Linked DNA regions of Homo sapiens: region 1 is linked to region 2. Evidence: fine-mapped expression QTL. A gene starts in region 2. The other region holds a variant in brackets. All regions are shown on one strand. Distances are from middle to middle. Region 1 overlaps SYNRG (synergin gamma). Region 2 holds the start of DDX52 (DExD-box helicase 52).

Region 1 (2,918 bases), 57 kb after region 2:
GGAAAAAAAATAAATTAACAGGTGGGAGATATTAATGAGATAGGAGAATTACTGATCTAGATGAGCTAGAAGGATAGGAGGTGGTGGTCAAGTGTCGGGATGCCTAACATCCAGATTTTGGACATGACACAGTCTTTGGTGCAGATAGATCATGGGTATTACCATGGAATGGGAAGCTGGAATTGTATGTTGGGCATGATTGTGATGAGGAGGCTAAAGACCTGGAAGACCACACAGTGTTAGGTGAGTTACCCATGTGGGTGATTGTTGACGTTACCAAGAGCAGTTTGGGGGTAGAATGGAAGACAGCAATGTCTGAAGTGTTCAACTGAAGAGTGAGGAAGTTGAGGGTCAGTAGATGACATGAACAAGATCGGATAGTAGATGATGAAGTCTGTTAGTGAGAAATTAAAATGTATTCAGGTTTTTGAAGGTAGAGAGAAGAGAAAAGGTTTAGAAGAAGCAAGGAGGAATATTCCCCACTTACAGGAAATATAGAAGAGAAGTAGCAGTCTCCAAATGAGAGTGTTTCACGGACAGACTTTAGTTAGGGACAGAAGAGGAACTTTTCAGGGAGAAGGTTGAGTAGTAGAAGAGTTTTCACTCATTAAAAATTAGCCATTTAATTATTGTCATTGTCATCATTCTTAATATTAGATTTTGAGCCAGGTGCCATCGAGGGCACACGCTTATAGCCCTAGCTACTCTGGGGCTGAGGCGGGAGGATCTCTTGAGCCCAAGAGTTGGAGGCTGCAGTGAGTTGTGATTGCGCCTTTGCTCTCCAGCCTGGGTGACACAACGAGACCCTGTCTCTAAAAACATAATATTATTAAATTTTGTGATTAGCTATTGTGTTATTATTATTTCTGGACACTTTAACAAACTTTATAATATTATGTAATTTTTTATTGAATATGTGTCATTTTCTATAAAAGTTTGACTATTAGGCCTTTGATAACATCAAAATATTCATTATCCTCTCATATATATTGGAAAATCAGATTTAATTTCATTTGTGGTATGTTTACCATATGCCAGGCTCTTACCTATTATTGCAAATATGAAAATATATAAGATATAATGCCTCTTCTCAAAGAGGATTAGTGAGCTCACAAGAATATAACTTGTGGGCATATAGTTCCATAACACACCAATCAGAGTATTAACAGTGGTCACCTCTGGGACAGTGAAGGGAATGGAGGGGTTAGATATTAAGGGGAGCCTTCCATTTTTAGCATCTTTTAATATAATATATTTCTTTGTATATTTGC[A/T]TCTTTTATTTATTTGCATCTTTGCATCTTTTAATCCAATATATTTCTATTTTTTACAAATAAGAGTATTAAGATAGAATTTATGGAAGTCACATTTTTGTGTGTGATAATTAAAGGGATAAATTGTGTTTTTTAAGCCTTTGTCTGTTTCTTCTAGGCAGGAATACCAATGGGACCAATGCCAGCAGCGGGAATGCCTTACCTAGGACAAGCACCCTTCCTGGGCATGCGTCCTCCAGGCCCACAGTACACTCCAGACATGCAGAAGCAGTTTGCCGAAGAGCAGCAGTAAGAGATCACCAGAATTAAAGGATAACAAAGATACATTATAGCATCTATCTTAAGAATTGTCTAATGATCTCTAGTGCAGATTTGAAACTAAAACAGTCAAAAGTTGTCTTTAAAACTCTTAAGGCCTGGCCCAGTGGTTCATGCCTATAATCCCAGCACTTTGGAAGGCTGGGGTGGGCAGATTGCTTGAGCCCAGGAGTTCGAGACCAGCCTGAGCAACATGGTAAAACCCTGTCTCTACAAAAAATACAAAATATTAGCCAGGCTTGGTGGCTCATGCTTGTAGTCCCAGCTGCTCAGGAGGCTGAGGTGGGAGGATCACCTGGGCCCCGAGGTTGAGGCTGCAGTCAGCCGTGATCATGCCACGGTACTCCAGCTTCGGTAACAGAGTGAGACCCTGTTTAAAAACAAAAACAAAAAAGCCTCTTTAAACTACCATTATTATAAGTTTAGAGTCAAAAAGGACCTTAGAGATCCTGTAATTCAACCCTCTTGTTTTATATCTAGTGAAAGTGAAGTCCAGGAAAATGAAACAACTTGTCAGTCCAGGTTACACAGTTACCAGCAAAGCCTGGACCCAAAGGCAGGCTTCCTGATTCCCAAATCATTACTCTTTCTGCTGTATGACACTGCCTTCCCAAGCAGGTTCTTTTTTAATATGCAGAGCAAAGTGTGTTCTTATGTTTGTCTGCCTGTTTTTCGAGAATACTTTTATATGCAAAAGCTTGTTTCCTCCTCTTGCAAATTAGATGAGAAATAAATTCATATACATAATTTAGGTAAATCATTCTTTAGACTCATGTCAAATATTTTGGAATTAATATAGTGAGGAAACAGGATTGTCGTAAGAAAACTAGATATTTAGCAATGAAATTTACACTTCTGGAAGTGCAACATGATATTGCTGAAACTGTTAGAAATCTGAATATAAAACACAGTGTATAATCCCGGGAGCTGGTTCTTTATTAGATCATTTTTCCTTCAGGAAACGATTTGAACAGCAGCAAAAACTCTTAGAAGAAGAAAGAAAAAGACGCCAGTTTGAAGAGCAGAAGCAAAAGCTCAGACTTTTGAGCAGTGTGAAACCCAAGGTAGTATTTCAATACTTCTCTTCACCCAGAACATACACACCCTGAATGTGCCTCTTCCCACTCATTGAGTGGATTTCGTCACTGGGGCACCAGCCCAAGCTGAGGCTGTGATTGATTCTTCTCATTTTGGTTTACCTAATTACTAATGTGAAGGGTTTTTCATTTTCTGTAAAGATACACTGCTGTCAATGAGAATAGGCTATCAGCCATTATCTTTTCAGCTCTTTTTTAGTATCATGGCAATGTTTATAATCTTTTTCTTGGG
Region 2 (2,918 bases):
TTAATTTCTCTAGCCCTAATTTTTGTTCCTGAGCTTCAGATTCAGAACCAACTACCTACTTGGATGTCTCCACTTAAAGTCAACTAGGTAGGCATCTTAACACGTCCAAAACATAACAATTGATTCCATCCTCCGTATCTCACTTGTACCAGAAAGCCCTTCTTCTCTCAGGCTTTCTTAGCTCAGTAAATGGCATGCCATCTACTCAGCCAAAAAACTAGGAGTGATCTTTGATTCCTCCCTTTCTCTCACCTCTGCATAAAATCCGTCAGGTACGTTTAGCTCTACCTCCAAAATACATGCCAGATCTAATCCATTTATCTCTCTCAGCACAGATACCAACCTAGACAAGCCATGATCATCATTCTACTTTGACTAACCTGTTTCCACTCTTAGCTTTTCTATGGTCCATTCTCCAAATAGCCAGTGTAATCCTTTATGAAACATCCACGCATTCATTCACCAAAGTGCACAGAAACTGGGGATACATAACGAAGCAAAGTATATCCCTGTGCTCAGGGACTTACATTCCAGAAGAGGGAGAGGCAATAAGCAGTAAATAATTTCGTACAGATGTAATAAATATAAAAAATTAAATGTGATAAACTAAATCATGTTCTTCTCTCCATAAAAATTTTCAAATAGTTTCCCAAGGTGGAAGTCCAAATTCCTTACTATGACCTTGTTACAAGATTCTGTGAGATCTGGCTTCTGTTTGTCCCTCCAACCTTATCTGTACTACTCTATCAGACTGCAACTTGGCTCTAGTCGCACCGGCATTCTTTCTATTCCCTCAAGGTTCCAATTTTTTTCCCTTCAGCCACGTGTTTCCCCTATCTGGAATGCTGTTCCCAGATCTTGGACAGGTTGCTTCCTCTTAGCTCAAGTTTTCACTTCAACAGAGTGAATTTCACTAAGTCAGCTCCCTCATCATTTTCTCTATCAATTACACCTTTTTGTTTTATAGCACTTATTACTTTACAGAGATTTTGCTTATTTATTTGTTAACAATATCTGTTGTCCCTACTAAAATGTAAGCTTCGTAAGAAGAGGAATCTTAAGATGTTGTTTACTATAGTATCCCTCAAAGTCTAGAACAGTGCCCAACATAAGAGGATACTGATAAATATTTTTTAAAAGAATTTACACACGCCTGTAGTCCCAGCAGTTTGGGAGACCGAGATGGGAGGATCACTTGAGCCCAGGAGTTCGAGGCTGCGATTGCGCCACTGCGCTCCAGCCTGGGCGACAGAGAGAGACCTTGTTTCAAAAAAAAAAAAAAAAGATAAATAATGACGGAGTACACGATAATAAAATAGCCTCGTTTCTCACCCAGCCAGGCTCCGCCTACAGGAGCCAATTATGCTCACGCCCTCTTCCGACGCTGCCCGGGGCCTGGGAAGTAGTCTGCGCAGGCGCCGTAGAACTGTGGCGCTTTCTGGGTAAAGATGGACGTCCACGATCTCTTTCGCCGGCTCGGCGCGGGGGCCAAATTCGACACGAGACGCTTCTCGGCAGACGCAGCTCGATTCCAGGTACTGTGCCCAAGGGACCGAGGGCCGAGTAACTGAGAAGGAGCAGGAGCCCGGGAATGAACCCGCTGCTGGGGGAGGCCGGCGCACTTGGACACCCGTGGCCTGGCTCTCGCCACCCTTGGGGTATTTTGCTTCCTTTTGTGTTCGGCTTGCCTGCACGGCTGCTCGGTTCAAGCCTTTTGAATAAGCTCTTTAACTATCCTGTTGTAGACCTAGTTGGGCCTGGCACGGAAACCCTCTTTCCTCCCTCTTATTCAAAGCAAAGTTGGAATCCTCCTTTCAAAAGGAACTTTTTCTCCGAACCTAGAGGAAAGGAATTTCGAAAACAGAAACAACCAAAGATGGAGAAAACAGATTCTCTTACTATAGTCTCCCCAAGTTTGGCTTGGCATGCGTATAGTTGTACTGGGCGTGATTCTTTTTATTGCTTCAACCCCATGGCTTAAGTAACCAATGAGAAGAGCGATTAAGAAATGGGGGCTCTTACCTAGAGAAGTAGTGAGTGATACATCGGGGGAGGTCAATTGGGGCCCAATTCTGGAAAATCTTGAATGTCTACTTTGTTGTTTGGATGTGTATATGCGTGTGACATGTGTTTCTTCTTTCTCTAACTGGTGAGTATGAACTCTGGAGCCAGATTATCTGGGTCTAAATGCTAAGTCTGCCAGTTACTCATTTTTAGACCTACCTCAAGTTACTTAATTTCCGAATGCCTTGGTTTTCTCATTCGTAATACTGCTATTTACCTTATAGAGTTGTAAATGTGAAGCAATTTAATATGTATAAACATGCTTAGAAATCTGCTTGACATTTAGTAAGCATATATGTGTTCATTGCTAATATTAATTTGTTACTATTATGAGGTCAGAGAAGGTCTCTTCAGATTCCATTTGTCCAGACACCTGTTAGCTCGACAGATACTTGGTGAAAGGGTAGAAAAGATGAGGAGTCATTGAACAGTCTTGCTTGAATGAAAGCAATGGTATTCTGTCAGTAGGTTTCATTTTACATTTTTTGGGTTTTAGATAGGAAAAAGGAAATATGACTTTGATTCTTCGGAGGTGCTTCAGGGACTGGACTTTTTTGGAAACAAGAAGTCTGTCCCAGGTGTGTGTGGAGCATCACAAACACATCAGAAGCCCCAAAATGGAGAGAAAAAAGAAGAGAGCCTAACTGAAAGGAAGAGGGAGCAGAGCAAGAAAAAAAGGAAGACGATGACTTCAGGTTAGTGTTTGATTTCTGTCATGTTTTTTCTCTTTAATTTTTTTCAGTTATAAAAATAATACAGGCTTATGGCTACAAGTCAGACAATAAGGTCATTTGTCAGCTGATGGCACTCAGGTTGTTTCCAGGTATTTGTCATTAGAAATATTGTTACAGCAA

The links. PIP is the estimated chance that this variant, and not a neighbour inherited with it, causes the effect.
Region 1: its variant is the best candidate, but not a certain one, in a credible set for the expression of DDX52 in lymphoblastoid cells (GTEx, PIP 0.56).

The regions. Positions count from the first base shown.
Region 1 is chr17:37,585,060-37,587,977 of GRCh38, reverse strand. It overlaps SYNRG (synergin gamma), which reads left to right. Exons shown (of 22, transcript NM_007247.6): 4 at 1,429-1,559; 5 at 2,548-2,653. Among named protein-coding and RNA genes, the nearest start is that of SYNRG, 23 kb to the left of the region's middle. The variant A/T (reference allele first, on the strand shown) is at 1,272.
Region 2 is chr17:37,641,951-37,644,868 of GRCh38, reverse strand. DDX52 (DExD-box helicase 52) reads left to right here and starts at 1,423. Exons shown (of 15, transcript NM_007010.5): 1 at 1,423-1,535; 2 at 2,561-2,759. The coding sequence starts at 1,449. It overlaps LOC105371756 (a long non-coding RNA gene), which reads right to left and starts at 1,931. Exons shown (of 2, transcript NR_188617.1): 1 at 1,333-1,931.